Linked DNA regions of Homo sapiens. The protein of the gene in region 1 interacts with the protein of each later gene in a pairwise test. Each region holds a gene or a part of one and is shown on either strand. Other genes may lie near its edges. The genes, in order: CYB561A3, TM4SF18 and HERPUD2.

Region 1 (7,577 bases):
TCCTAACTACTAACATGCAGCTCATGTTCCTTGTGCCTGCCCAGGCCTCTCAGTGGCCCTCAGCCATGCCATGCCAGCTCTCCCCATGCTAGGGGTCCACCTACTTAGGTAAAGATGCACAAGGTGACCCAAGTTGGCAGTAATCTCTGAGAAAGGAAGGTCCAGCCAGGCTCGGTGGCTCAAGCCTGTAATCCCAGCACTTTGGGAGGCCGACGCGGATGGATCACCTGAGGTCAGGAGTTTGAGACCAGCCTGGCCAACATGGTGAAACCACGTCTCTACTGAAAATGCAAAAATGTGCTGGGTGTGGTGGCGCACGCCTGTAATTCCAGCTACCAGGGAGGCTGAGGCAGGAGAATTGCTTGAACCCTGGAGGTGGACGTTGCAGTGAGCCGAGATCGCGCCACTGCTCTCCAGCCTGGGGGACAGAGTGAGACTCTGTCTCAAAAAAAAAAAAAAAAAAGAAAAGAAGGTCCAAGGGCTGCAGGGAAAAAGCTTCCATGAAGCTGGCAGGAGAAAATCATGCCACCAGCCTCCTAGAAGATTTGTGACTCAACTACTTAACTCAGAGATTTGCTACCCAGCCTCAGAACTGCCTCCTCAATTCCTCCAAGGGCAGAGGACGTTTCAGATCACCAGATATTCACCTAAAACACTCTCCATCCCTCAGTGAAATGTAAGAGATCTTGATCAGCAGGCTCACTCATCTGACAATATCTACTTCCACAACTGTTTTTTTTTTCTTTGTAAGAGGAAAAAGTAAATGCAGTCCGAAAGGATCTGTAGCCACACCCTAGAAAAGGTCCTGGTTTACTGCTCTGTGACAGACTTAGAATAGACCCTGGGCACACTTTCCTGACAGAGAGCTGCAAAGTTATATTGCCCTGCTCACAATACACAGATAAGCCCTCCTACTTCCTGAAATAGAGCAAAGCAGGAGAAAAGGAAGAATGCAGTGAAGGACCAGCACAGTGATTCATGCCTGTAATCCCAGCACTTTGGGAGGCCCAGGCAGGTGGGTTACCTGAAGTCAGGGGTTCGAGACCAGCCTGGCCAACATGGCAAAATCCCGTCTCTACTAAAAATACAAAAATTAGCCAGGCACGGTGGCATGCGCTTGTAGTCCAAGGTACTCGGGAAGCTGAGGCACGAGAATTGCTTGAACCCAGGAGGCAGAGGTTGCAGTGAGCCAAGATCACGCCACTGCACTGCAGCCTGTGCAACAGAGATAGACTCTGTCTATAAATAAATACCCAGGAGTTCCAGACCAGCCTGAGCAACAGTGAGCCCTCATCTCTTAAAAAAAAAAAAAAATTAGCTGGGCGTGATGGCATCCACCTGTAGTCTCAGCTACTCAGGAGGCTGAGGTGGGAGGATGGCTTGAGCCCAGGAGAAGGCTGAAGTGAGCCGAGATCGCACCACTGCACTCTAGCCTGGGCGACAGAGCTAGACTCTGTCTCAAAAACAAAACAAAACAAAAAAACCGTGAAAACTGCAATGCAAATGCTTGAAAATATCCTCTCATTTGTTCTAAGGGCAGGCTGGGCTGTGATCCCAGGGTGTGCTCACTTTGCAGAGCCCCATTCTAAGGGAGCAGTCAGCAAGCTCTTCTGTAAAGGTCCAGGTAGTAAATATTCTAGGCTTTGTAGAGCACATGGTCTGTCACAACTATGTCATCAACTCTGCCCATGCAAGAGCAGCCACATAAACATCTTAACAAATGAGCACCACGGCTGTGTTCCAGTAATATTTATTTATGGACACTGAAGTCTGAGTTTCACATAATTTTCACGTCACAAGATATTATTAACTTCTTGCGAAAAAGGATTCTCCCGGCTGAGCTAAAACAGGTCACATCCAGGGGTAAGAAATGCTAGTTCCCATCCAGCCCTTAGTCTTAGAAAAAGGCTCTACGCAGGCTGGGCGCGGTAGCTCACGCCTGTAATCCCAGCACTTTGGGAAGCCGAGGCGGGCGGATCACATGAGGTCAGGAGTTCGAGACCAGCCTGACCAACATGGAGAAACCCCGTCTCTACTAAAAATACAAAAATTAGCCGGGCGCGGTAGCGGGCGCCTGTAATCCCAGCTACTTGGGAGGCTGAGGCAGGGGAATCGCTTGAACCCGGGAGGCGGAGGTTGCAGTGAGCCGAGATCGTGCCACTGCATTCCAGCCTGGGCGACAGAGTGAGACTCTGTCTCAGAAAAAAAAAAAAGAAAGAAAAAGAAAAAGGCTCTACTCCAAACTCTTGCAGTGTTACTTTTATAATTTAGAACTACAAATAAATGAAGGGGTAGAAAATCAGTTTGTTGCTCTCCCTCCCCGATGGACTGGGGGACTTCAAGAATCTTGAGGACCAGATTTAGGATACAAGCCCTAAACCCTCATCTTACAAATCAAAAACACTGTGACACTGGGGCCCAAAACAAGAAAATGACTTAGCCAAGGTAAGTGGCCGAGCTGGTACAGGAATTCGGGTCCACTCCCTCTCAGCTCTGAGGATTCCTTATTCTCAAAGGTAGCTTCTGTTAAAGTCGGAACATGAGGAGTGAAGGGCTCAATATTCCTGCCAAGGAGGTAGGTGAACAAGTTACCCCTTAGCACCGGAATAATTATAGACCCCGACTTCAGGCTGTGCCTAGGTCCGGCTCAGGTGTCCAAAGAACCGTTCCAGGCACCCGAGGGGTGATCCCTGACTCCTCTGCTGGGTGCTCGTGCCAGCTAACAATGGGTGAAAATTGGGGTGAGGAGCTCCAGGTGCTTTCTGCGTCCTCTGAAGAGCTTTCGTGCCTTTATAACCACCGCGTTGGAAGGAAGAGCGCGGAGAAAGGTGCCCACTTTCTAAAAGAGAAAATTGAGGCCGAGCAAGGGGATCGCGACAGTGCGAAGCGAGATAGCAGCGGAACCAGCATTCGAACCCAGGTCCCTGAACTCCCAGCCCCGGGATCCTTCTCACCCCTAACCACAGTGGGACGAAGTGAGGCCGGGATCTCCGGAACCCGCCTCTCGCTACCAGGCGCCGGAGCTGCCGCTCCCGAGGTTCCTAGGAGATGCAGAAGACACTGCCCTGAATGCCTACAGCCGGCTGGCAATGCCGCCCCAGAGCAGAGCGGCGGGTGCCGCCTCGCCTTCTTATAGGCTCGCAGCACTTCCAGTCGCGCGCGAGGCCTCCTGGGAAGTGAAGTCCGGAGACCAGGGGTGGCCGGCTCCCAGCGCGCCAAGCTGCTAACCCCCTAACTCCCGTTCCTCCTCGGCGTTTCTTCTCCAAGTCCGAAGTCAGGGTCCAGGACTGCTGCGATGCATCAGCCCCGCCTCTCATCCCCCATCCAGAGGAGGCGGAAATGTTCAGGTGAACGCGAAGCCTCCCACTACGAGCCGGCCCTCAGCAAGGCCGTGCGCAGTGTGGGCGGGAGCCCTAAGTCAGCTAGCGGCGACGCTGGGAGGGCCCGGAGCAGGCCGGGCCCCGAACAGCGAAAGCTCCAACATGGCGGCCAGACTGGCCATAGAGCGGGAAGAGAAAGCCGGGGACTAGCAGGCCGCACGGCGCAGACGGGGCCCGCCTCCTCCATTTACTTCCGGAATTTAAAGCCGGCTTCCGGAAGCCGGGACGATGTCCGCATGACAACCGACGTTGGAGTTTGGAGGTGAGAGTGATTGACGAGGAGTGGGTTAAGTGACCAGAAGTCAGAATTTTTGGTGCTGTTGTTTTGGGCTTGGGTTTTATGCTTTGTTGTTGTTTGCCAAGGAAGCCTCGTTTTTAAGTGGATTGGGAAGCGTGAGGAATACTGCCCTAGGTACAAAGGGAAGGCGGCAGGTAGCGGTGGACGAATTAAAGAGCTTCATGAGCTTGTGAGTCTCCACTGCCCTAAACTGGAGGGGATCGTCGTACGTAGAGACAGGCATGGGCGTTTCTGCATAACGGATCCTCAAAACAGCCCTGGATGGTGGCCTATGAGTAGTGGTTAAGAGCACGGGTTTGGCGTCACAGTTATGAAGCCGGGTTCTGCTGACTTGAGACCTGGAGGAATGCCTTGAGCTCTGACTTCTGTGTCCTTTCCTGTAGAATAGGAATAATTCCCACCTTGCAGACTTGTAGGGAGGATTAAAGGAAACGATCTTGGTTGACAAGTTTATCGTGGTGTGAGTACCTAGGTAGTAGCTATCAGTGTTATTTAATGCGGCCGGGCGCAGTGGCTCACGCCTGTAATCCCAGCACTTTGGGAGGCCGAGGCGGGAGGATCACGAGGTCAGGAGATCGAGACCATCCTGGCTAACATGGTGAAACCCCGTCTCTACTAAAAATACAAAAAATTAGCCAGGCGTGGTGGCACGCACCTGTAGTCCCAGCTACTTGGGAGGCTGAGGCAGGAGAATCGCTTGAACCCGAGAGGCGGAGGTTGCAGTGAGCCAAGATCATGCCACTGCACTCCAGCCTGGCGACAGAGCGAGACACTCTCTCTCTCTCTAAAATTTAATGAATGAGGAAACCGCGAACATATGTCCAATAAGGTGGGACTTCACCAGCTGAGGTGGAGGAGGTGCCTTAACCTTCCGGAGCCTCTGTGTAAAATGGGGATAATATACATTGTAATGGCTACTTCTCAAGATGGTTGTAGGATTACGTAAGGTTAGAAATATGAAAAGAGCTTATAAATTGCAAAACATTTTACCGATGCTAATTTAATCGCTAACACTCCAGAGCATTTTGAAATTTCTTTATAGATTTGGCACAGCAGCGGGTCATAGGACACCCCCAGAGCAACTTGTGGGTCTTGGAATAGATGAAAAGAAACAACTGCCACTGTGTTGCAACCATAACCCTAAAGATAAAGCTTTCCAGGAGACCCCTGTTTCCTCTCTGCTTTTTCTGCCTAGGGCACTTCACACTTCTTTGCTGGCATTTTTCCTGCCTAGTTAAATACTAGTCTATCAATTATGTAAGAGACAGCTTAGTCCAGTAGTTAAGAGCACAGACTGTGGACCCGTGCAGCCTGCATCTGAATACTAGCTCTGCCACTTACTAACGACGTGACCTTGGACAAATTATTTTACCTCTCTTGGCCTCAAATTTCTCATCTGTAAAATGGGGAAGGTAATAATGTATTATGTCATCTACCTTGTGAGGTTTAAATAATGTTAGTGCTTGTAGAACACTCCCTGGCACATTGTAAGCAATGTATAAGGATTTGCTGCCATTTTTGTTACCACCGCTACTACATGACCAGGCAGTCATTCTTCTCAGTAATACTACTAGATTCCTTTGGTTAGAGACAGCTCTGCATTGAGAAGATTCCAGGCATGGAGAAAAGCTGGTGAAGGTCCTAGAATAAATGACTTCTTGGGGGTTTTTGTTGTTGGTTTTGTTCACTAAAGTATCCCATGCAACTGGAGTGGTACCTGGCACACAGTAGGTCCTCAGTAAATGTTTATGGTATTAATACATTTCTAACCTTGCTTATCTTTTTGCTCCAACAGGTGCTTGCCTTAGAGCAAGGGAAACAGCTCTCATTCAAAGGAACTAGAAGCCTCTCCCTCAGTGGTAGGGAGACAGCCAGGAGCGGTTTTCTGGGAACTGTGGGATGTGCCCTTGGGGGCCCGAGAAAACAGAAGGAAGATGCTCCAGACCAGTAACTACAGCCTGGTGCTCTCTCTGCAGTTCCTGCTGCTGTCCTATGACCTCTTTGTCAATTCCTTCTCAGAACTGCTCCAAAAGACTCCTGTCATCCAGCTTGTGCTCTTCATGTGCGTGCAGTAAGGCACTCTGGAAAGCTGAACCCACGCAATTCAAAGGCCCTGACAGTGGTGATTTAGTGTCTTAAAGTTATTAGTAGGCTGGGTACGGTGGCTCACACCCATAATCCCAGGACTTTGGGAAGCCAAGGCAGGAGGATCTTTTGAGGCTGGGAGTTTGAGGACCAGCCTAGGCAACATAGCAAGACCCTGTCTCTACCTACTAAAAATTTTTAAAATTAGCTAGGCATGGTGCCACACACCTGTAATCGCAGTGATTCAGGATGCTGACGTGGAAGGATTGCTTAAGCCCAGGAGTTCAAGGCTACAGTGAGCCATGATCATGCCACTGCACTCCAACCAGGTGACAAAGACCCTATCTCAAAAAAAAAAAAAAAAAGCCAGGTGTGGTGGTTCACGCTTGTAATCCCAACACTTTGGGAGGCCAAGGTGGGCAGATCACCTGAGGTCGGGAATTCGGGACCAGTCTGACCAACATGGAGAAACCCCATCTCTACTAAAAATACAAAAATTAGATGGGCGTGGTGGTGCATGCCTGTAATCCCAGCTTCTTGGGAGGCTGAGGCAGGAGAATCACTTGAACCTGGGAGGCAGAGGTTGCAGTGAGCCATGATCATGCCACTGCACTCCAGCCTGGGCGACAGAACAAGACTCCATCTCAAAAAAAAAAAAATGTTTAAGAGTGTCAGATAGCCTGGGCAACATAGTGAGACCTTGTTTCTATTAAAACATAATTTTATTTTTTTTTTTTTGAGATGGAGTCTAGCTGTGTCGCCAGGCTGGAGTACAGTGGCACAATCTCAGCTCACTGCAACCTCCGCCCCCTGGGTTCAAGCAATTCTCCTGCCTCAGCCTCCCTAGTAGCTGGGATTATAGGTGTGCGCTACCACACCCCACTATGTATTTACCACACCCAGCTACTTTTTGTATTTTTAGTAGAGACGGGGTTTTGCCATGTTGGCCAGGCTGGTCTCAAACTCTTGACCTCAAGTGATCTGCCCACCTCGGCCTCCCAAAGTGCTGGGATTACAGGCATGAGCTAATTTTTTTTTTAATTAGCTGAGTATAGTGGCACACACCTGTGGTCACAGCTACTCAGGAGGGTGAGGCGGGAGGATCACTTGAGCCCAGGAAGTTGCTGCAGTGAGCTGTGATCATACCACTGCACTCCAGTCTGGGCAACAGAATGAAACCCTGTCTCGAAAAATAAGGAGTATCAGAGAATCTTCTATAGGACTATGTATGGAAGAAATTTTAAAAATAAAAAAGAGTATTAGAGCAGGAAAGCCTTGACTATGGACTGCAAACCCAACTGATGGGGCCAGTGGGTAATTTTAGGTAATTTTAGCTTCATGTCATTCAGGTCCCAAAACCCATGTTATCTCTGTGAGGGTTTAAGATGTCAGATGCCTATCTCACAACAAAGGACAGGCCTCGTGGTGTCCCTCAGGACATAGTACCTGCTCTTGGGTCCTCACACAGGCCTTCATTGGTTGTACTTTTTTTTATGTCTACAGCATCCAGGATATTGCAGTCCTCTTCAACATCATCATCATTTTCCTCATGTTCTTCAACACCTTCGTCTTCCAGGCTGGCCTGGTCAACCTCCTATTCCATAAGTTCAAAGGGACCATCATCCTGACAGCTGTGTACTTTGCCCTCAGCATCTCCCTTCATGTCTGGGTCATGGTAAGAGTGGCAGTCTGAATTCTTTTTTTAATTTTTATTTTAAATAGAGGTGGGGTCTTACTTTGTTACCAAGGCTGGTCTCAAACTCCTGAGCTCAAGCAATTCTCCTGCTTCTGCCTCCCAAGCTCAAGCAATTCTC
Region 2 (7,650 bases), on another chromosome or scaffold:
AATTTCCCTAAACCTATCTCATACCCCCATTTACCCCTATCTCCATCTCAGCTGCCAGGGAAATGAGTCCCTCCAGATCCCTCCTCTAGACTGTTCCTAGTACATGCTCTGCACAGATCATCTAGCAATTTAAAACAAGATGACTTGCAATGTTGCAGGAAGTCGGGGACCCCAAATGGTGGGACTGGCTGGAGCCGCGGCAGAGAAACATGAATTGTGAAGATTTCATGGACATTTATCAGTTCCCAAATAATACTTTTATAATTTCTTATGCCTGTTTTTACTCTAATCTCTTAATCCTGTTATCTTCATAAGTTGAGGATGTACACCACCTCAGGACCACTGTGATAATTGTGTTAACTGTACAAATTGATTGTAAAACATGTGGTTTGAACAATATGAAATCAGTGCACATTGAAAAAGAGCAGAATAACAGAGATTTTTAGGGAACAAGGGAAGACAACCATAAGGTCTGACTGCCTGTGGGGTTGGGCAAAAAGAGCCATATTTTTCTTCTTGCAGAGAGCCTATAAATGGATATGCAAGTAGGAGAGACCTGAGGGAGAGTCATGTTTGCTAAGAAAGGTCATGGTATATGGCACCATGTAAAAATCTTCAGAATGAAGGCAGCTACAGTCACAGAAGCAGCTCTGCCATGTAGGCCTAGATGCACATGTAAGACCTCAGATGGACATGGGCCTTGAACAATAAAGCTAATCATGGAGAGTTGAGAAGAAAATTTAACTTCCCCCAGTGAATGGTACAGACATTCCCTCATTTTACTCCATTAGAATTCTGGACCTCTTCTGTATTTCTTTCTGGGCCCTGCTACCTCCTAATCTGCATCTGGTGCTGGGAACCCAATAAGCCCAGCACAATGCCAGTGTGAGGCATTCTGAGATCCGGGATTGGGTTGTGAGACTCCTGACTGAATTACTAGCCTTCTGAGCAAGGCTACCTCTTTAGACCCTTCTCCAGTATAAGCTGCATAAGCTCTGGCTCATTCCACAAACTCCTGCACCTAATCATGTTCCTGGACCTCAGACTGTACTTTCCTGCTCATCCTGCCTTGTTCTATCTCTTTATCATCCCTCCTACTATAGCCCTGAGTGGCACCATCCAAGAGCACCATGGTTTCTCTCCTCCTCAAGCCCTTTTACACTTGTAACAGACCACATGTCCAACCTGGCCATAAAACAAAACTGAGTTCCTGGATCCACCCAGTCCATAAGCTCCAGCTGTTACCAGACCAGACCATAGTAACCACACAACTTTAATCTGAGGTATGGGAGAAACACACCTTTCATTTGGATAGCTCCATGACAACCTCAAGACATTGAATGAAAATGGCATTAAAAGACTGAAGAAAAAAATCTAAACAAAGATCTGTGCAAGAACAAATTGGTCTGGATATTAGTAAACTAACAGGGAAATTCTGCACTAAAACAGCCACATGGAACCCCAAAGTGATCATGGAAAATGAGCGTGAGCTTGAGCATGAGGCAAGGTGTTTCTGATTTTCCGACCTCCTTGGTTTGGGGAATTATTCCTTACCGTCCAGCAGTGCCTTCAAAAGCATACTCCCAGCCATCAAGGGTGCGGCAATATGGCCCTTGGACAAGACCCAAGGCAGAGATGACCAGGCAGTATCCAGAAAAAGCAATTCCGAGGGAAGAAAAGATAATTGACAGCAGTGTCTAAATTAAAACATAGAAGCAGGTTAGTACCATAGAATGCGACAAGGGGATATTGTGGATAAATTATCAGATAGCTACATTCCCCTATTCACCCAAGCTCATGCAGTCTATACAATACTAAATGCCCACATAGAAATAAAAAAAAAAGTAATCCAAACCTATTTGATCTTAAAAATAAGCTTTTAAATAACGTTTAGTTTGGCATCACATAGAGGTAACTAGGTAATTTACTAAATTTATTCTTTCCTTGTGGAATTTTGATATCAAAATAATGATCTCCTCTTATGAAAATGCAGTGAAGGATGTGATCAATCAACCCATAACTATCTATTGAAGACCTGTTATTTTCTAGGTAGAGTGGGTTCTCTAAGAATTATAAGCTATGACCTCTGCTTTCCTCTTATAAAGATATTAAAATATCTTTACAACAATATAAAGGAAAATGTCAGGTATAGTATTGAAATTTATATTCATATTCAAGTGACGATAGGATTGATGGAGAGGGGGGTGTTTTCATTTGAGTAGAGAGAATGGGTGTTATTCACAGGCAGATCAGTGCAACCAGAGTTGTGAGAAAGTAGGTTTAATCTAAGAGGGGTTTATTCAGATGAGTGAGGAGAAAGGCTCTGAAGACAGATTGACATGGTACTAATGCTGGGAAAACAAGGTTGATAGGGCACAATTCAGCCCTTGAGTAGCTTAAAAAGTGAGTACAGCTTGGTAGATCCAGGCCAGAGCTGGCCTTGAATGCCAGGTTAAGAAATCTGGACTTTATCCTTCAGGGCAAGGGACTTCCCTCCTCCCAACCTTAAAAAATGTCAAATCTACAAAAAAGTTGAAAGTATAGCACAATAAACCCCTACATATCCTTTATCTAGAATCACCTACATGAATATTTTACCATATTTGTTTGTGCTTTCTCTCTTTCTCTGTGTGTATGTGTGTATATATTCATGCAAAGTATATATGTACACCTGTACATATATACAAATATGTATTTATTATGTGTTTTTGTTACTGAGCCATTAGGTTGCAGACATTATGATATTTCACCCCTAAATATTTCAGCATACACCTCCTAAGAATAAAAACATTCTATTATTTTGTAACTTTTAAATTTTTTTTGTACAGGATCCAATAAAGGTTTATGTACAAGACTACATCTCTTTAGTTTCCTTTAATTTACACTAGTCTTTCTGCCTTTTTGTTTTTTGGGGTGTTAAACTGTTTTTAAGAATCCCTGACAGTTGTCTTGTAGATGTCTCACATTCTGGGCTTTTCTGATTATTTTCTCACAATTGAATTCAAACATTTTAGCGAGAATACTTAATGGGTGTGGTGTACATTGTGGGCCTTTCATGCTAAGGGTGGTGCTAAGTTTGATCTCTTGGTTAAGAGTATCCTTCAGATCTCTTCCCTGGATAGGTACATTTTCCTCTTGGCAATTAGTAAATAACTGCCAAGGTGATGCTTTGAGACAGTGTCATATTCTGTTTCTTAATAACATTTCAACTGATGGATTTAGCATCCACTGATGATCCTCATATTCATTGATTACCAGCAATCACTGTGGTTCCAATGTGCTGCTTTCATAATGCTATAATTTATCTGCATTTATGTTATCATTTTTCTGCACAGAACAACTTCCATTTCCCATTCCTCTCTCCTTTGCCTCTGTCTATATTTTCTGGACTCACAGATCTTCTAATTCATTGTGCTATAATCCATAAATGCGATTATTCTTTTAGATGCACAGATGGTCCAAATTCGGCCAATGTGAACATCCCTGTAGGTCAACTCCTATGCCCTTTGACATACTCATGTCATTCTTTGAACATTTTCTTGCTTTCTGGCACAAGATGTTCCAGGTTCATTTTGAGCTTACCCTGCCATAGACCTGGAAGAAGCTGGGGTTTTGTTGTTGTTGTTGTTTTGTTGTTGTTTTTGAGTTGTAGTCTCACTCTGTCACCCAGGCGGGAGTGCAGGGCCTGATCATGGCTCACTGCAACCTCCACCTCCTGGGTTCAAACGATTCTCCTGCCTCAGCCTCCTGAGTAGCTGGGACTACAGGCACGTGCCGCCACGCCTAGCTCATTTTTGTATTTTTAGTAGATATGGGGTTTCACCATGTTGGCCAGGCTGCTCTCAAACTCCTGACCTCAGGGGATCCACCTGCCTTGGCCTCCCAAAGTGCTGGGATTACAGGCATGAGCCGCTGTGTCCGGCCAGAAACTATTTTTTAAACAAGTCTTGTAATTGGTTTTTGAGCAGGAAGTGATATGCCCAAAATGTGCTTTTGGAAGATTGCTCTGGCAGTGGTCACACAAGCTGGAAGTAAGAGACCTCAAAGATAAGGATCCAGCTTGGAGACAGATGCAAGTTGAGGTGACAAAGACACACATTGGAGGAAAACACATTAAGGAGGAAATGAGTAGCTGGAGATGAAAAAAAAAAAAAAATCCAGAGCTGGGGCTTGGATAAAAAGGAGACAGAAATAAGGATACCAAGAAAGGTTATTTGGTTTGGGGGAAAAATTAGCTTTAGAAATGTTGATTGCAGGGTGAGAGTAGGCAGCAGAATAGTAACATGCAGTAACCAATTGATAATAAATTCAAAAGCTGAGACCAGAAAAAGTAAGACCAACAAACCTGTGATTTTAGGAATAAAAATCATCTCAATAACATTTCTTTGTTTAAAATTATTTCACTGAGTATGACATTAATATATCCTCTTTATGGAAAACTGGAAAAAATATTCACTGGGAAGATCAGTGAAGAATTTCTTCATTGGGGGAAACTGGCAGCCATAGCATACACACACATGCACACGCACACACTACAATCTAATGAGTGGATACCATTGCACTATCAAGGTAAGCCTCAAAATAAAGTGGGAATAAGAATTTGAATCATAGTTTTCTTTTCTGTAAACTGTAGATGATGTAGACAGGAATGGTACCTATGTGACAGGGCAATTTCAAAAATAAAATATAATAAAATATTAGCTATTATTTCAAGTGCCCTTATTTGGCCAATATTTGCTTTCCAGGAATAATTGTCCAAGAATTTTGGCAGAAAACCAGACTCCATGCAGGAATGGAGAGTGCCTTAGTTCCTGCTGCTATAATAAAAATACCTTAGACTGAGTAATTAATAACAGAATTTTATTATTCACACTTCTGGAGGCTGGAAAGTCCAAGATCACTGGCAGATTCAGTGTCTGGTGAGGGCTCATTCCTCATAAATGGCACCTTCTATGTGTCCTCGCATGGTGCAAGGGAGGTAAGAGTACTCCCCTCAACCCCTTTTATAAGGGCACCACTCTCATTCATGAGGGAAGAGCCATCATAACTTAGTCACTTCCAAAAACATCCCACCTCTTAATATCGCCACAGTGAGAATTAGGTTTCCATGTGAATTTTGGAGGAACACATTCAGGCCATAGCAGATAACAACCAAGAAATGAATCAATTTTTATTACATTTTGGAAGTTACAAACTGATGCAGATTCAGTTTTTCCCACAATATGTACTTTGTTTGGTTTAAATGAAGATTAATTGCCAATATTTTACAATTGAAAAGTTTTACATAAAAATCCATATTTTTACTTTCTACTGAAAACTGAGAATTATTGCCCTACTTGATCATGGCAACAACTGGCTGGACTTCAGTAGCAGCTCCTTCTCCTCCTTAGATGGAAATTGTGCTCTGATGCCTACCAGGCTCATTTAATTCATTTATGTCACACACGTGGCTTCTGGGGGCATTTGAATTGGGACTTCTCTTCTAGAACTTACCTTGAAAAGGCCAAAAAGGGAACCCGGAGAATCCTCTCTTTCTTTCTCCTGCTGTTCCCAATGAGATGTTAGTCATCTAATTTAATGCTGATTATAAGACCCTTTTCAGACTATTTCTAGCATCTATTTGTGCTAGAAGTGCTAATAGTGAGTTAAGGCAAATTGAACATGTGAATTTTTATTTTACACTTAATATCACATATATTTGTTTTCTAGAAATTCTCTGAGTATCATAACTTGAATCTATACCTGAATTTATTATTTCCCCTAGGCAATTTTGAAATCTCTTCCATAAGTATATTACAAGTAGCTACTGGAGGATGACTGAGTCAACTGGTCACACACACACACACACACACACACACACACACACACACACGAGTGTATTTTAAATTTTCAATTCTTCTCCATAAGGGACACAGTACTAAATAAAGCAACGAATTTAATTTTTAAAAGACATTGGTCAAAGAAAATTTGCCATACAATCTTGACTACGCATTGAAATATCCTGGGGAGATTTAAAACATATCCATGCCCAGGTTGTACCTCAGACTAACTAAATCAGGGACTCTGGGGATGGGATTTAGGCATTAGTGTTGTTCCAAGCTCCCAGGTGATTGCAATATGAAGCTAACAGGTAGAAGCACTGCTGCAAAAAATGCCTACCAGATATCATCATAAAACTCCTCCTAGCTAATAATCACTTGTTCTCTTTGAGCCACAAGTGCTTCATCTATAAAATAGGAGCAATAATGACTTAATTCACTGAGTAAATGTGAAAGAACTATAAAGTGCTATGCAAGTGTGAATAAACGATGAAGAGGAGGAAGAGGATGAGAAGGAGAATGGTAGAAATGCAGGAGCACTGGCTTAGAAAATGCGGTTGTATTATTCACCCTGATACTATTTTAATTATTTTTCAAGTGCCAACTTAGAAAATGCACATCACATACACCCAACAATATGGATGAATCTAAAAATTATTATCCTGGATGAAAAAACCCAGATAAAAAAGACAAATATTGTATGATTCCACATATATAAAATACAAACTAATCTATAATGACAAAAAGTAAATCAAAGGTTAATCTTTGGGGGTTGGCAGAAATATTCTGTTATCTTGACTGCAATGGTGGTTTCATGAGTGTAGTCAACTGTTAAAACTCATGATATTGCATAATTTTAATGGATGCCACTTATTATATGTAATTTAGCCCTCAATAAAGTTTGTAAAGAAAAAATAGACTAATGGAAACTTAGTTAGGAAAAAAAAGTATTATTTCCTAATTTTAGGTATCTTTAAATGCTGATTTTCTGAAAGTGCATCAGTAGAACAAAAGTGGAGGAAAGACTAAGCAAAATGGAAGATGATCTTGGCAGTAAACTCTTGATCTCTGTACTGTACTCAACAGTAGTGAGGGTATAATACTGTCAATATTTTTGTGTTTCTGAGTGAGAGGAAAGAAAGCTGGAGCCCACTCAACCATCCTCAAAAAAACTGTTGCTCTTACCACATATTTTTTGCTGCAGTTTTCACTCTGGCAACATTTATAGTTGTTATTATTCTCCAGTACCAGAAGAACTGTTGTTACTATAAGCATCTATAGGAGGGAAGACATAAAATGTTAGCAATGAAATGCTAGTTTACATTTGTGCTTATAATCAGAGGACAGCGTCTTCAAGCATAGAGTCTGGGGTCAGGTAGATATGGATTTGAATCCAAGCTCTGTCACTTTCTAGCTGTGTGAATTTGAGACACCTTCTGTATAAAATGGTATCAAGAGATCGTCACGAGGTAATATATGTGACATTTTGAGTATAGTGGTTGATTCATAGTGACTGATAAATGTTAGCTATTATTATCATGGTTAGCAACCATCAAAAGCTAATGATTAAGGAGAAGTAAATGGATGGACAGGAGAATACCACCCTGGGCAGCAAAACCTGCCTTTCTCAATGACTCAGTTGTGGAGAACCAAGGAAAATCATTCAGCAGGCTTGGTAGTTTGCCAGCCTCTCTTCATTTACTGTCCTCTGGGAATGGAGGTGAGAGGCTCAGTTAATCTGAAACCATATCTCTTTAAAGTGACTTCAATTTCCCCATGCATTCAAACCATCTCAGGTTTAAATTGTTTCAATGTGTTTTGTCTGTATCAA
Region 3 (4,627 bases), on another chromosome or scaffold:
ATATATAAATTATATATAAATATATACAAATTATATATATAAATATATATTATAATTATATATAATTATATAAAAATATACAAATTTTTATATAATCATATATAAATCATATATATAATCATATATATATAATCATATATAAATCATATATATAATCATATATATATAATCATATATATATATTTTTTCCCCTGGGCCACTACCACATTCATAATTTTATAATGTATTTCATGTGATATAAAGTTCTCCCACACATATTTGTTTTATTTAGCTATCCCATAAGAAACTTACTGCCTTCTCATGATACATTAAATTGGCTTTCACAGGGATTTTTAAATAAACTAATGAGGTTTCAATCTAACTAGGAGATATCCATCTGGAATGGAAAGAGGTGTAAATGACCTTTAAGACTTCAGCAACCCTTCCAAACAACTACTAAAATTTACATAAATGTTTGCATGTAATGGGTGAAGAGTTTGAACAAATATCCCATAAAACTGTTTACCATAATTGACTTTTTATTTAAAAAATTACACGGAGCAATTTCCAGCTTATCTTTTTTTATAAAAGTACTGCCTATATCAAACATTTTATATCACGTTAATTCCATTGAAGAGCTGCCTTTTTCTGTTAAGGTACTGATTCCAATTGATGGGATACATGCCCTTAATACAGAAAGTTTCCATTATTTATTCAAATATCAAAATTAAGATTATTGAGAAGTTTATTGCTTTATGGCTGGGCAAGATGCTACTAGCACATTTTAGGTAAATAATATTCTTTATTAAAAACTATGAGGTCATTCTGTTTAAAACTTTCAAGATAATTCACGGAAAACAGATATATCTATTCAAATTAAACATTAAAGGGCCAGGCTACTAGCTATAGACATTTATATGTGAAGCAGCTCTTTTTTTTTTTTTTCTGAGACCGAGTCTCACTCTGTCGCCCAGGGTGGAGTGCAGTGGCCCAATCTCAGCTCACTGCAACCTCCGCCTCCTGGGTTCAGGCAATTCTCCTGCCTGAGCCCCCCAAGTAGCTGGGATTACAGGCGCGTGACACCACACCCGGCTAATTTTTTTGTATTTTTAGTTAAGATGGGGTTTCGCCATGTTTGCCAGGCTGGTCTCGAACTCCTGACCTCAAGTAACCCACCCGCCTCGGCCTCCCAAAGTGCTGGGATTACAGACGTGAGCCATGGCGCCCGGCCAATGAAGCAGCTCTTTAAAGAAATAAGACATGAAAATAGGTCTGTCCTGGTATACTACACATAATTGAAATGAGTAACACCTGGAAGACCAATATTGTTACGCTATGTTCTGTTAGGATCTTTAAAAAAAAAAAAAAAAAACTCAGATATTTAGTAGTCCATTCGTGCTTAAAATATTCATATGCATGAGAAGCCTAAAGAAAAAAAACACCTCTGTACATGATGATCAAAAGAAAGTTATAAATTTTTTTGAAATTGCACTGTTATTTAAACCACTTTCCTGAAGTCAGACCCTCCTTGTAGCTGGCACAGTTTTTCAGGTCAATTGGCAACCTGGGGAGGCCCCTCTGGTATTAGTGAAGTAAAGAAGGTGGTGATGAAAGACCAAGCTGAAGCCATTAATCCAGGCCTTTGAATTGCACTGGCATCTTCACCTCCATCTTCTCCACTCTCATCTTCAAGCCCATCATCCATAAGACGCTCCTTTCAAGCAAAACAAGAAAGATACTCCTGAGTGATATGAACGAGCATTAGCTCATAATAGAATACAGTTAAATTCTTTGTAGAACAAAGGACTATGAAGTGGTATGTATGTGGTCATTAGAAATCTTTAAGGCCAAAATTGATAAATTCCTCACTGTTCCGTAAAGGGGACAACTGCCAATGCAATACAATAAATTCTTACCATGTGTATAATTTTATTTCTAGGCTATTTTCAAGAAAAAAAAAGTTACTTCTTCCCATTTAGTTATAATATATGACTGATTCAGTATAATATTCTAAGTTCTCCCAAATGAAACCACCACAATTTATATGTTAGTTTTCTTTCATGTGCCATTTCACAAATACTTATGGAACATCCAACATTCTTTCATCATGTTGGTCCCATACCGTGCTGGGAAAATCTCAGTATCTTAAGTATACAAAAGCTTCAATCACATACCATTTCTTCAAGTTCCAAGTTGTTTGCATTTTGCCCATCATTGTTAACTTCGGCATTATTGTTGGGAGCCTGCTGATGACCTCCTTCTTGCCTAAAAGGAAACCATCCAGCTTGGTGTCTGTTCAGTAAAATAAAGAGAAAATAAAATAAGTCACAGTTGTTTTTATTTGTAACACTATAAAATGTTATTAGTGTCCTATAAGAGAAAAATGATTAAAACTATAATAAATAAAAAGACCAAATCTCCCACTTCAGGACAGGGAACTACCCTTTTCAAAGCAACGACAGCAAAAGAAAACCAACCCAAATCTCTAAGTCTATCATGGACTCCACTGGCTCTATGTTAGTTATTAAAACATATCAGGAATCATAAATCTTTTCTGGTACTTTTCAAAATGAAATACAACTTAGATATTTGTTTGCCCCTTGGAGAGAAGGGAGCAGGGGAAAAATAGTCTACTTATGAAAAAAATCTGGCTTATACCTATAGAACTTACTATTGGTAATTCTAATGAAAGAGGATGACCTTATGCAGGAGTGCATCATACACTTGTTAAGTTCGAAATAATGGATAGAGTATGTCTCACTGAATGAACAACTTTTATAAAATACAGTAAACAAAAAATCTGCTTCTAAATAATTCTGATAAACATTCTCACTCAACAAAACCTTCCCTTGCTTTTGGCATCAAAAACATGCCAGATATCTAAAGCCCAGCATTCATATTCCTTCACTCAACATTCACAACAGACTACCCTACACCAGATTCTGTGCTGAACAGTTGCAGAAATTAAACCACAAAAAGTTAATGAACATCACTCACAAATAAACCAGTAGCATGGCTCCCATTACCATGATAAACCGACTAAAAGAAGAATAGAAGTATACAATGCTAAGGAGAATCGCAGCTCGTGAGAACGTGTACATCCAGTCTAGCCAGTCTCGATTGAAGTCTTCTTCATTTAGTACTGGACCTCCCTGTGCATTCATTTGAACATTCTCATTCATGGGTCGATTTTCTTGGGCCACTAGGTTTGGAGCTGGTGGGGGTTCTTCTCCAGGAACATGTGCCAAATTTAGAGGCTGTGAAGTAGTAGGCTGGGTTGGGTTGACATTTGATGTGGCCTGAGCTGAAACTGCAGCTTGACTGAAATAGTCACCAAAATAAATATTAAAAAGAAAAAAAAACTTTACCATACCATATTTTTTTAAACTTCTTGGGGAGCTATATGTATTTTTCATAAACCTAATATGGAATATCCCAACTCCTGCACCACATTTCTTAGGTAAGCACAAATTCCAATGGAAAAGTGGAGCCAAGGTTGATGGTAGATGTCGCACAGGAAAGGATGTTCTCTCAGCCTGCTATTGTAAGATGACAGGGGAAGGCAAAAGACGTGAGAGCAGCCATGTTAACCACTCCTCTCTCTTTCAATAAATTACCTTAACAGCTAATGAGATGTCCAAACCTTTTCATGAATGCCCCCTTTTGTTATTCTACATGGGATGAATACTCCCAAGCTCACCACCTACCTCTCCCTCAGACCCACGTTTTGAAAGGCTTGTCTAAAAATATATACTATTATTATACTGTGTGTCTACTGTCAGTGATAAATGATTTGTATTAGTATCCTAAAATCCTAAATACATCTCAGATAACAACCCTTCCACCCCAATACTGATTTGGAAGAACTCCAACTGGGGACCACTGATCCTTGTCAAGTTAGAAAGAATTGTGATTCTGAGGTTTGCTTATATAATTTGATTGCTTAAAATTTCCCAGTAAAGAATAAATTTCCTAGTAAAGTGATAATATATCTTGGATTTGCTTTAAATTATCCAACAGAAGGAAGAAAGTTGTAAAATAAGACTGACATGAATTGATAAATGTCAAAGCTGGGTGATAGGTACACATGGATTCCTTTTACTACCCTACCTTGTTATGTTTTTAAATTTTTCTACAATAAGAAGTTAATAATCAAGAGAGCACAAGAAAGTTAAATAAGTGGTTCCCAGGCTACAAAATCCTATTTAAGCCAGTATGCTAATACCTTGTACCTGTATAGGGCTTTTTAGTTTAGAAAACACTTCCTACTTCATGAATATTCTGATACACAGGTGAGTTACATTACTTTAAAGGGGAGAAACTAAGGCTCTCAAGTTAAATGATGCACATAAGAGTATATGATTTAGCAGCAAGCATAATAAGCCCCCCTTATCTTACACAGTTCTTGTGAGGTTCACAAACGAGACAAGGTGGGGTACAGCATCCAGCAGAGTACTGAGCACAAAGCAGTCACTCAAATGATAACCATTACCATGGCAACATGTAAGGTATGAACATCCTGTCTGGAGCCAAGGGCTTATGAAAGAGAGCCTTAGGATACGAGGTTCATAAAGCAGCTTAGCTTTATGGGGAAAGGTCTGGAGGAAGGACAAGGATGTAGACTTCACAGTGGGCAAGAGAATCAGTG

Evidence for each region.
Region 2: the proteins of CYB561A3 (region 1) and TM4SF18 interact in binary tests that used the Homo sapiens proteins (3 or more experiments, as listed by UniProt).
Region 3: the proteins of CYB561A3 (region 1) and HERPUD2 interact in binary tests that used the Homo sapiens proteins (3 or more experiments, as listed by UniProt).

What each region holds. Positions count from the first base shown.
Region 1 is NC_000011.10:61,358,779-61,366,355, forward strand, and holds the start of CYB561A3 (lysosomal membrane ascorbate-dependent ferrireductase CYB561A3), read right to left. Parts: upstream 3,105-7,577; 5' UTR 2,955-3,104; intron 2,565-2,954; exon of another isoform or gene 648-2,564; intron 1-647. Other genes in the region: TMEM138 (transmembrane protein 138), read left to right, coding at 5,613-5,740, 7,267-7,438. UniProt on the Homo sapiens protein: Transmembrane reductase that uses ascorbate as an electron donor in the cytoplasm and transfers electrons across membranes to reduce iron cations Fe(3+) into Fe(2+) in the lumen of the late endosome and lysosome.
Region 2 is NC_000003.12:149,323,326-149,330,975, forward strand, and holds part of TM4SF18 (transmembrane 4 L6 family member 18), read right to left. Parts: intron 7,095-7,650; coding exon 7,005-7,094; intron 1,698-7,004; coding exon 1,555-1,697; intron 1-1,554.
Region 3 is NC_000007.14:35,632,159-35,636,785, forward strand, and holds the end of HERPUD2 (homocysteine-responsive endoplasmic reticulum-resident ubiquitin-like domain member 2 protein), read right to left. Parts: intron 3,301-4,627; coding exon 2,977-3,300; intron 2,272-2,976; coding exon 2,154-2,271; intron 1,694-2,153; coding exon 1,532-1,693; 3' UTR 501-1,531; downstream 1-500. UniProt on the Homo sapiens protein: Could be involved in the unfolded protein response (UPR) pathway.